Homo sapiens: one gene and its partners. The protein of the gene in region 3 purifies or fractionates together with the protein of the main gene of each other region. This does not show direct contact. Each region holds a gene or a part of one and is shown on either strand. Other genes may lie near its edges. The genes, in order: FAF2, INSIG1 and AMFR.

Region 1 (3,823 bases), on a different chromosome or scaffold from region 3:
CCACAGAGCCCGGCCAGTTGAGCCCCACTCATTTTCTGGCCTTGGACCCTCTGTAGCTTCCAATGATGAGCTCTTTTAATGGTACATGAAGGAAGCTAGAAGAAAGGTGAAGGTATGAAGCAAGTGGGTATATACATAAAAGGGTTCCAGTGTTTGCAACCTAGGGGCTGCCAGAGCAAAGTGAAAAGGTACCGAAGCTGCCAGGCATGGTGGCTCATGCCAGCAATCCCAGCACTTCGGGAGGCCAAGGCAGGTGGATCACTTGAGGCCGGGAGCTCAAGATCAGCCTGGCCAACAAAATGAGACTCCATCTCTACTGTCTCTACTAAAAATACAAAAATTAGCCAGGCGTGGTGGCGCATGCTTGTAATCCCAGCTATCTGGGAGGCTGAGGTATGAGAATCGCTTGAACCCAGGAGGTGAAGGTTGCAGTGAGTCGAGATGGTGGCACTGCACTCTAGCCTGGGTGACAGCGACAGAGCAAGACTCTGTTTCAAAAAAAGAAAGAAAAAGAAAGAAAAGGTGTAACAGGAGTGTCTAGGGAGGTCCAACTATTGTGGGAGGAATCAAGGGCAAACTGGGTAATCTCAGAGCAAGAGAATTTGTTGGGATTGTGAGTAGTCAGGTGGAGGAGAAGTAGTTGAGGAAGAAAGTTCTAAGGAGTGTGAAGCTAGGAGATGATAGTGGTTAGAAAGGAAAGGGTGTGGACATCAACTAGGAAGTGTAGAGGTGACAAATATGGTGGGGGGGGGAGGGGGAGACAAATAAATATAGTCAGACTGGTTTTTGCAAACAAAAGGTAAGACTAATTTAAAAACAATTCCATTTCACAATGCCTGCCAATGCTTCAACAATTTAAAATACTTGTATGTTGTATTAAAAGACAGTTCGGGAAGTGTATTCCATCTCATGACAAATTGGTAAGTCAACATTGATAGAGCATAAAGCTTATTTTGGCCTAAATTTCAGCTCCAAAGTCTTACTATTCTACTAATACATAAATCCAAAGGTACATACCTAAATATATCAAGTATCGTGTAATAGGTAAACCGGAATGGAAGCATTATCAAGTAATAACCCCATCCAAGCAGCCCCTGAAAGTCCAAAAACAAAGTTAGAGACAATTCTCTCAATCCCTAATATTTTATCAAATGGCTAGGTCAGATTTTCTCACTCTTTTTGGTCCTTCCATGTGATTTGTTCCTCTAAAGTACAGTTCCTTCTTCCTGGCCACCTCATCCTTCTAAGTGCCACCATCTTTGGTCTTATTTCATCTTACTATCATTTTTTTTTGCAGAATTTTTGTATTAAATCTGCTTTAAGGTCCAGAGCTGTATCTCCTGCCTGTAATCCCAGCACTTTGGGAGGCTGAGTGGGGCAGATCACCTGAGGTCAGGAGTTTGAGACCAGCCTGGCCAACACGGTGAAATCCCATCTCTACTAAAAATACAAAAATTAGCCAGGCATGGTGGCATGCACCTGTAGTCCCAGCTACTCAGGGAGGCTGAGGCAGGAAAATTGCTTAAACCCAGGAGGCGGAGGTTGCAGTGAGCTGAGATCGCGCCACTGAACTCCAGCCTGGGGGCAGAGCAAGATTCTGTCTCAAAAAAACAAACAAACAAATAAAAACCAAAACTGCCTTAATACTTATTTTTGGCAGCTACTTATAGACTTGTCAAATTCAATTGCAAATTAATGTTCCCCAAATGATACACACTCATTCTTTCCTTTTTAGATTTACACATCAAAATATGGTATACAGAAATAAGCCAGGCTTGGTGGCTCACGCCTGTAATCCCAACACTTTGGGAGGCTGAGGCGGATGGATCACCTGGGGTCAGGAGTTCGAGACCAGCCTGGTCAACATGGTAAAACCCTGTCTCTACTAAAAATACAAAAATTAGCTGGGTGTGGTGGCTCACACTTGTACTCCCAGCAATTTGGGAAGCCAAGGCAGGCAGATCACTTGAGGTCAGGAGTTTGAGACCAGCCTGGCCAACATGGTGAAACCCTGTCTCTACTAAAAATACAAAAATTAGCCAGACGCGGTGGTGGGCGCCTGTAATCCCAGCTACTCAGGAGGCTGAGGCAGGAGAATCGCTTGAACCTGGGAAGCTGAGGTTGCAGTGAGCTGAGATCACACCACTGCACTCCAGCCTGGGCAACAGAGGGAGATTCTGTCCCAAAACAAAACAAACAAACATAAAAACCTAAAATAATGTATATAGAAATAGCAAGAAAGATAATCACTATTACTAACCTTGGACATTGGTATATAAACATTAAATAATTATATTAACCACAATGACAAATCCCCATATAGCTGCTTATCTTAGTAATAATGCTAATTATTATTGCTGTTATTAATTATTAAAACTAGCATACATCCAGGGCTCTATAGTTTATAAAGCATTTCATAGTTGTCACATTGTGTTAACCTGAGACACTTTCTGTGTCTGTGGCCAGGAAGCTCTGGAGCCCCATGGCTGACATGGGAATCTGCTACTGTACTTCAGAAAACCACAGAGCACTACTTAGAAACATGTTTTAAAACATCAAGTAGGCCAGGCACAGTGCCTCAAGCCTGTAATTCCAGCACTTTGGGAGGCTGAGGTGGGCAGATAACTTGAGCTCAGGAGTTCAAGACCAGCCTGGGCAACATAGCAAGACCCCATCTCTACAAAAAATACAAAAATTAACCAGGATGGTGGCGCACACCTGTAGTCCCAGCTACTTAGGAGGCTGAGGTGGAGGACTGCTTGAGCCCGGGAGGTCTAGGCTGCAGCGAGCCAAGATCATGCCACTGCACTCCAGGCTGGGCGACAGAGTGAGACCCTGTCTCAAACAGAACAAAACACAACAAAAATCAAGTACTCCACAAAAAGGCTTGATGATGGAGTAAATTCTAACTGCTGCAATGTTAAAGGGAGTGTTTTCTTAGGATTCTAAATGCAAGTATAAAAGTATAAGAGGTGAGTATAACCCCAGGGGTAAGAAAAAGAAAGTCCAAGCAGTTCTTTAGAATTCATTATCAGTGTACACATCTGACTTCCTTCAATAGACTGTGAGAAATTGAATTTGAAATGGGAAGACTGGCTCTTTATTCATGTCTGGATCCCTAGTAGCAAGATACCAGGTTATTGGAGTACTCTTAAATGTCTGTCAAATTTAAGTGAACCACCTCCTTGCTACTAGCCCTTCAAGGCTAATTTCAAAGACGTGGCCAAAGCTCCTACAAAGATTCCATATACTTCCTCAAAACTGGTTTAAGATTAAGTAAACTGAAGCAACAAAGAACTTGAGTAAACAAATTGTAACTTAAGAGGCAGAAAACACTCTCCAAATAACTGGCAAAGAAAAGAAAAAAAAAATGAGTAGTTTCTGTAACAATTCCTTGAGGAATCAAGGCAAAATAATACACCCAACGGGCCAAGTCTAACTAACAGGTTTACATTCTAAATATTTGTTTTGCTCCTGTCACAGGGAGATCAATATAACCAAGTGGATATACTTATAAATAAAAAAGGGGGAAATCCCAGCTATGAAATAACTTGCCCTTGGTTGAGGTCTTGAGACAACATAGCTGTAGATCCTGTGGTCAGCTGTATTAACCTGCAGGGGTCGTGATGGAGGTGGGTTGAAAACACTAGGTACGCCCTCTTGCTCATTCAATCTGTCCTGTACAGCAGCCTGAGAAGGAAAACGGAGTGGCAAGAGTTTCAGCGATGCTCAAATCAACCAACAACAAGAGGTGAGGCAACTATTGCGTGGTATTCCAAAACAGGATGGTCATGAATACACCAAAAGGTCACTGAGGAGTGCA
Region 2 (3,823 bases), on a different chromosome or scaffold from region 3:
AATCTCTACCTACGACTCAGAGGCCACGCTGGAGGCCCTCAGCAGGAACCCCACGGGCAACCTTCCCACATTCCCACGGGACATCTTGGTCGGTGTAAGTGCAACAGCCACAGAGCCACAGGGTGCCTCTATGACTCCAGGATCTTCCATGGTTCATAATGTCCCAGTACAGATGAGAGGAGGGACAGAGTCAGAGAGGCTGGGTTGTATGAACACTGGTTTATTAGGTAGATAGGAAAAGAAGAATGAAGTCAATAGTCTTTAGCAAGCCAACTAGCTCAAGGAATAGACAGCCCCTTTCCATTCTGGAGACAACACATAAATCTATTAATATTAAATATTGTCATGAGGTATGCACCTGCCCACAGGGGTATTATGATGGAAATACTGGGGTAGTCTGCAGGGCCAGGTACAAATGACGGGAAACAAAGCCAGAGAAACTGAAATACCTCTTGGACCCCAGAAGACAGATGTACTGATTTCTGGGATGTCAGGAGCCCAGTGCAGAGCAGCTGGATAGGTCGCTAAGAGCTTTCCCTTCTGCTTATCGGGTCTCACACACCTGGATAAACCAGTTATTGAAAGCTGACCTGCTAATGAGAAGCTTCTGGCACTTGCTGGTGTTTCCTAATTGAATGGGTGACTGCCCCGCATCTCAGGGCCGGGGCTCCCGTGCGGACGCCTCTCCATGAGGTTAGCAGCTTGATTTAGATCAGCGTGCGGGACGGGGAGCTCACAGTGGGGTCGAGGAGACACAGCACAGGCTTCTGAAAGGTGCCCTGTCCATTAGGGAGCACCCCATTTACAGATGGGTCATCCTTCAGCTCACTAGTTTCCCAGCGCATGACAGTGGGTAGCTTTTTTTTTTCCTATTATAAACAAATCTTCGATGTGACTGCGATGATCTACGGATGATCTACGTATCTGGTTGTGTGATCCTCAAGCACTTATGCAAGGTGGAGTGTAAACAATGGCCAAGACCCAAACTGCAATGTTCCCTGAAGTCCAACCTGCTTGGAGTCCTTGGGAACGTGTACAATGGTTAACAGGCTTGAGAGGAGTCAGCTGGGAGAGTGAGAGCGAGACTGCCCTGCAGAGGGGCCGCTGAGGATGGACCCCTGTAGGCCGTCCACACCCACCACGCGTGTCATCCTCAGGAAATGCAACCGGATGCTCGGAATTTCGCCCCTAAAGCGACTCAGGGCAGTCTCAGCTCAGGAAGACTTCTTTTTTTGACCTTCTGGCTTAAAGCCACAACCCCAGGCTGAGGATGCCACATCAACGGCGTTTCCTCGCCACGCTGCAGGCGTGACTCACGTTTCTAAGCCTGCAGGGTCCCCGGGCCAAGCGCGGCTACTGAGAGCACAGCGTCCTCCCTCAGCCCCTGCTCATCTGCACGGAGCAAAGCCGCAGCTTTCTCTGCTGTCAGCGCTTTATACGACTCGGATGTAGGCTCTGAGCGGGCACGGGCCCGCCCTCAGACGGCGACCCGAGGGGCAAACAGGATGGAGGCGCGCTCCCTTGGAGGCTGTGGTCTCGATTTTATCTGCTCCTGGGTGGTGCGGGTGGTTTGCTCTCTAGGCGTGAGCAAAGGCCACAAGGGGCCCGAAAAAATCACCCAAGGATGCAAGCCCGCCATTGCGCTGAGCAGGGGCCTCCCCGCCGCCAGAGCCCGCGCCCCTCCAGGGAGGCCCGCGCGATCGAGACCCGCCGCCTCCCGGCCAGGCGCGGGACACCAGGCGAGGGGAGCCAGGAGCCGGGAGGGGCGGCGCCGGGCCCGCAACCCCACCCTGTCCTGCCTCCGCCTCCTCCCGGCAGGACCGTCCCCTCCCAGGCCCCAGCTCCGCGGCCGCCCACTCGCAGCCGGCCAGTCCCGCTCGGGCCCGCGTGCCCCGCAGCCGCCACGCGCCCCGCAGTCCGTGCCGAGGCTCCCGCCCGAGTGCGCGCGGGCCGGCGGTGGCGTGTGCGCACGTCATATGGGCCGCCGGCCTCCCATTGGTTGCGGCCGCCTCACCAGACCGCGTGCGGACGGGCTCGCGGGCGGGGCGGGGCAAGCTCAGGCCACGCCCCTGGGCGGTGCGCGCGGGCGGTGGGTAGGCCGGGCAGGCTCACGTGATGCGGGCCCCGCGGCCCGCCATATAAACCCGCGCGCCCGCCAGGCGCTGCGGCCGTCCCGGGCCGTGACTCCTCCTTTCCCCCGCCCCGCCTCCGTTCGGAGAGCCGGCGGGCGGGCGCCTCTCGGCCAGGTACGCGGCCGGCTGGGATAGGGGTCGCGGGCGGGCTTTGGTCGCGCAGCAGCCGGTCCTCCCCGGAGGTAGGCGGGCGCGGGCCCTGTTGGGTCTTTGGGACGCGGGTCCCGCTGGGGCCGGGGATGCTGCTCGCTGTGAGCGCGGGTCCCGTCCGCCGCTGGCCCCGGGCGGGCGCACGGGGGTCTAACCTTGGGGGGCGGCGCTGCCGCCTGGCCCGGGTGCCGGGGTTCGCGTCCCGCGGGGCCTTCCTCGCTCTTTGTCTCTTCTGAGTGAACTTGATGACCCCCTTCTTCCAGGAAGCGCCTCTTGGACGCGTGTGACCGATGCCCAGATTGCACGACCACTTCTGGAGCTGCTCCTGTGCGCACAGCGCGAGGCGCCGAGGCCCCCCGCGAGCCAGCGCCGCGGGGCTGGCGGCCAAGGTTGGGGAGATGATCAACGTTTCCGTGTCCGGGCCCTCCCTGCTGGCGGCCCACGGTGCCCCGGACGCTGACCCCGCGCCCAGGGGCCGCAGTGCTGCGATGAGCGGCCCCGAGCCCGGCAGCCCCTACCCCAACACCTGGCATCATCGCCTGTTGCAGAGGAGCCTCGTGCTCTTCTCGGTTGGGGTGGTCCTAGCCCTGGTGCTCAACCTGCTGCAGATCCAGAGGAATGTCACTCTCTTCCCCGAGGAGGTGATCGCCACCATCTTTTCCTCCGCCTGGTGGGTCCCTCCCTGCTGCGGGACAGCAGCTGGTGAGTACCCCTCCTGGTTCTTCTGGAAGTAAAAAGGGTGTCTTTTCGGTTGAAAGTACTTTTCAGCCTATAAGAAACATGCATTTGAAACTGGAACTATCCACAGATTGAAAGTGTGCATCTCCAGTCTTGGGATTTAGAGAAATGAAGGAGGGGTAGAGAGGACCTGGCACCCCCGAGGGCGGGTTCGGGCCACAGCTCTCTGAAGTTTGAGGAAGCACAGTGATGGAGATGAGGCAGGGAGATAATTGGCTGTTCAAGCAGGTGCTGTGCCAAGCTGACTGAGGGCCCTTCCCTCCTGGCGTCCGGGTACAGCCCCAGCTGTCATCCCGCGCCAGCCGCCCCGGATTGGCCGCCTGGGGAACTGGTGAGCAGCGGGACTGAAAGGCCATTGGTCGCGGCAGCAAACATGCTACCCTGCTGGATAACTGAAAACAAACCCGTCACATGGGTTCAGGAGGCGGTTGCCAGGGGAGCAACTTCTCAGCACTTCCTTTTGCCGGGTCGCTGAGTAAACTGTGGTCTGAAGCCAAACCGCCTACACCCTGAACTGTTAGAGCTCTGTAGATTACGTTCTTAAGGAAAAGAGTAACCCCCTTACGGCGTTTAGATTTTCGTACACCCAAGCAGTAGCATAGATGCTGTACAACGTAACACTGAGTCAGTCTGAACTGTGGACACGGGGACTGCTGGGTGTGTGTACTAGACTTTCTTGGCTATCATTGAACCGCTTTTATAGAAATGTTGAGTTGATCTTGGCTCAGCAGATCACTTACTGCTCCTGTAGTCACACAGCATTTGTTTATTTAACGAGCTTGTCGGGTGCTTTCTGCAACCTC
Region 3 (3,600 bases):
GGCTGCCCTTAAGTGTTCTCCCAAAGGAGGGATGGCATGAGGTACTAAACAGACCCTGAGGTGATCTCAGGGATCTTGCTTTCTTAAATTACTCTCCTCTATCCCCTTTCTTTCTTCTTTAAAATTATCATTTGCTTTTAAAAGTAGAGGGAAGAATGACTTGGCAAGGGTAATATGGTAAACGTAGTGAATCAGAGGCAGAAGCAGCTTTACATTGAATTGGAGTTCCTTTTCATTTGCTCTCAACAAGTCATCTGTACTGTTTTTATCAAGGTCCTTTTGGCTTTTTGGAGTCATTCAGAGTAATGTGATACCCCACACTAATCTCTGGGTTGGGGACAGCCAACTCTTCCATTTTGTAAGCATTAAGATTTGGCGTTTAGGTGTAAGGATATTCATCATTTAGAGTTTTGTTTTGTTTTGTTTTGTTTTTCAAGTTTTCTCATAGACTGTTGAAGAAGGCCTTGGTTTTGCATTGGTATCCCCAGGTTGCCTTTCATCTCTTGGCCCCTCTCGCCGGTTTTCTTTTCCTTCTGTTTAACCCATTCCACCCTGCTGCAGTGCCACAAAACCTTTACTTCAAAGCCAACACCAAGCATGGAGAACATTTATCTTTTGGTTGAAAGATTTTTCCATTCCAATAAATATTAAAATATTCTCTCTGTATATATATATTTATATTATTAGTTCCTTATGATGAGACTTTTTTGTGACCATCCACACTCCTACCCCTACCTCCTATTTGTTTGGCAGGGCAGAATCTCTGGGTGCTGGGTTTTACTATTCACGGTAACTTCAATTTCTAGAACAGTTTTCTTCAAGGCTGTCAAAATAATGTCGGAAATGAGGTACTTGGGAAGGACCTGCAGTTTACGAGGTTAATGTAGTTTTGCACATACAGTACAAAGTATACACACAATTCAGTTAAGGATGAAAGATAAGGTGGCCTGCTGGAGGGTGCGTATTGGGACAAGAACTGTGACTTAGCTGGTGAGCTGGTGCCTCTCTTTCCGGTCCTCATCCCTAACACCCACTCCCCAGAACAGTGTGCCTTTTCAGATATTCCTTATCTTGCATTGGGAGAGAACCAGAAAGGCTCAGTCACTGGAAATGATGGCTGAATTCCTAATATGAGATTTTTAGAGCTGCTTTTATTTTTCAGCAGGAAGAAATAAACTTCCTTTCTCTGATTTGTTTACAGGTTCTAGTAAATACCGCTTGCTGTGTTTTGATGTTGGTGGCTAAGCTCATCCAGTGTATTGTGTTTGGCCCTCTTCGAGTGAGTGAGAGACAGGTAAGTCTACACTGAAAGGATGGATTCTTGTGACTAGATTTTTTTTTTTAAACTTTGTATTATGATTTCAGATGTGTGGAAAAGTTCCATGAATACTACAGAAAACTCCTATATACCCTTTATCCAGATTCGCCAGTTGTTAATATTTTGTTCCATTTGCTTTAATCTTCACTTTTTATTTATACATACTTTTTTTTCTGATTCATTTGAGAGTAAGTTGTGGACATCATTACCCCTTTACCCCTAAATACTTCAGTTTGTATTTTCTAAGAGCAAAGGCATTTTTACAGCACAGTGATTAAAATTAGGAAATTTAACATTGAAAAAATACTTTGTCTAATCCACAGTCCATATTCAGTGTAGCCAAGTTGTCCCAATATTGTTTTTTATAGCTGTTTTTCTTCATGACTTTTAGGAATGTCGTTTTTAAAGAAGCCTAGATTTGTTTTATTTTGAATGATCATAAATGTCACTCTGTAGAATGTGGGTTCTTTTCCAAAAGAATTTACCAAGATAATTTTCTCTGTGGGAAGGTGAATTAAGAATCATTGTTCTAAAAGCATAAAATTAGGAGATTTGTTCTTGTTTTGGGTGAGATTGTCTGACATTGGAAAGTGACTCAGAATGGGCAGGGGATGCTTTCAATGAAGAATTACGCCACAAGCATACTGTATAGATTGGCAGTTCGCTGAGGATTTGAGTGGGTAGGGTGTAGAATAATTTTTTTTTTTTTTTTTGAGTCGGAGTCTTGCTCTGTCACCCAGGCTGCAGTGCAGTGGCGCAATCTCAGCTCACTGCAACCTCTGCCTCCCGGGTTCAAGCACTTGTCCTGCTTCAACCTCCCAAGTAGCTGGGAATACAGGTGTGCACCACAGCTAATTTATATATTTTTAGTAGAGACAGGATTTCGCCACGTTGGCCGGGCTGGTCTCAAACTCCTGACCTCAGGTGATCCGCCTGCCTTGGCCTCCCAAAGTGCTGGGATTACAGGCGTGAGCCACTGTGCCTGGCATGGTATGTTTTAAAGTAAAAATTTAGAACTGGCCTTCAAAATCACAACATAAGAACAAAATTGTGTTTTATTCTATCTTATCCCAGTGATAAAACACAGGAACCTACTATATGAAAAGCACAACAGCAGCTTTACTTTATGTTCAGAGTGTTCCATTCTCTCCTTACCTACCCTTTTCAACCCAAATTTCCTTTTATAAAATCAGCTGAAGTCCTAGTTTAGAGCTGACATGTATTACTTGGTGGTTGAGCCCTTGGATGCCATTGTGAACAGGACTATTTTGTATTCTCAGAGATTTTTCATTTTCAGCACTTTCTCCAGTATCGACTCTAGAGGTCTCCCAGATAGGTTGTAAATGCTGCCTTTTTTTTTTTTTCTTTTGAGACAGCGTCTTGCTCTGTCACCCAGGCTGGAGTGCAGTGGTGCGATCTCCACTCACTGCAGTCTCAACCTCCTGGGCTCAAGCAGTCTCCTCCCATCTCAGCCTCCTGAGTACCTGAGACTACAGGCATGTGTCACACCTGGCTAATTGTTTAGGTGTTTGTAGAGACGGAATTTCACCATGCTGCCCAGGTTGGTCTCAAACTGTTGAGTTCAAGCAGTCCGCCCGCCTCAGCCTCCCAAAGTGCTGGAATTATAGGTGTGAGCCACTTCTACTGGCTTAAATGCTTCTTTTGATACTTCTTCAAGTTTCTCTTCAAATTTTTTATTTGTGGACCAGAAATTGGTCAGGCCAGGCAGGCTTGGTGGATTGATCTGGCACCAGTGGGCTTTATATACTTTCTTTTCCCTAAAAGGTTACTTCTATCAGGTTGAAATTTATAGAAAGTATAACCTTGGAGTATTTTAGAGATTTTTTAACTAGATCCAGAGGTAATTATAATGAGCATATTTCTTATCCAGCTCCACTTTAATTTTTTTCAGCATCGATCGCATCTTCCCTGCTGTTCTGTGTTGGTTTATTTATGTTTAATGTCATCCAGTAGCATCAATTAGGAACCATTTTGAGTTAGAAATCTCTAGGATTGACATGGGTTTGCTCTTGGGTGCTTAAAGTTCTAGAAATAGAGTAATGCTAGAGGCAAAGACATCGAATATCTAAAATGATTAAAATGTTAAGTGGAGGTTTAGAGCAAGGAAGCTTTTTGATGCGTTTTTAAGTGCTTAGTGCCTAGTATGGCACTTGTCTAACCATTTCACATATATTATGTATAATTCCCCCAACAATTCTATGAGGTATATGCTGTTATTATAAGACCTATTGTATGGATGAGGAAACTAAAGCACAGGGATG

What was found.
Region 1: the proteins of AMFR (region 3) and FAF2 purify together in Homo sapiens (affinity purification with western blotting; 9 studies listed by BioGRID and IntAct, with this or other methods). This does not show direct contact.
Region 2: the proteins of AMFR (region 3) and INSIG1 purify together in Homo sapiens (affinity purification with western blotting; 6 studies listed by BioGRID and IntAct, with this or other methods). This does not show direct contact.

Annotation. Positions count from the first base shown.
Region 1 is NC_000005.10:176,486,222-176,490,044, reverse strand, and holds part of FAF2 (FAS-associated factor 2), read right to left. Parts: intron 3,691-3,823; coding exon 3,556-3,690; intron 1,095-3,555; coding exon 1,018-1,094; intron 1-1,017. UniProt on the Homo sapiens protein: Plays an important role in endoplasmic reticulum-associated degradation (ERAD) that mediates ubiquitin-dependent degradation of misfolded endoplasmic reticulum proteins.
Region 2 is NC_000007.14:155,295,714-155,299,536, forward strand, and holds the start of INSIG1 (insulin-induced gene 1 protein), read left to right. Parts: upstream 1-2,164; 5' UTR 2,165-2,246; exon of another isoform or gene 2,247-2,314; intron 2,315-2,437; exon of another isoform or gene 2,438-2,545; 5' UTR 2,546-2,572; coding exon 2,573-2,984; exon of another isoform or gene 2,985-3,267; intron 3,268-3,823. UniProt on the Homo sapiens protein: Oxysterol-binding protein that mediates feedback control of cholesterol synthesis by controlling both endoplasmic reticulum to Golgi transport of SCAP and degradation of HMGCR.
Region 3 is NC_000016.10:56,411,946-56,415,545, reverse strand, and holds part of AMFR (E3 ubiquitin-protein ligase AMFR), read left to right. Parts: intron 1-1,201; coding exon 1,202-1,294; intron 1,295-3,600. UniProt on the Homo sapiens protein: E3 ubiquitin-protein ligase that mediates the polyubiquitination of lysine and cysteine residues on target proteins, such as CD3D, CYP3A4, CFTR, INSIG1, SOAT2/ACAT2 and APOB for proteasomal degradation.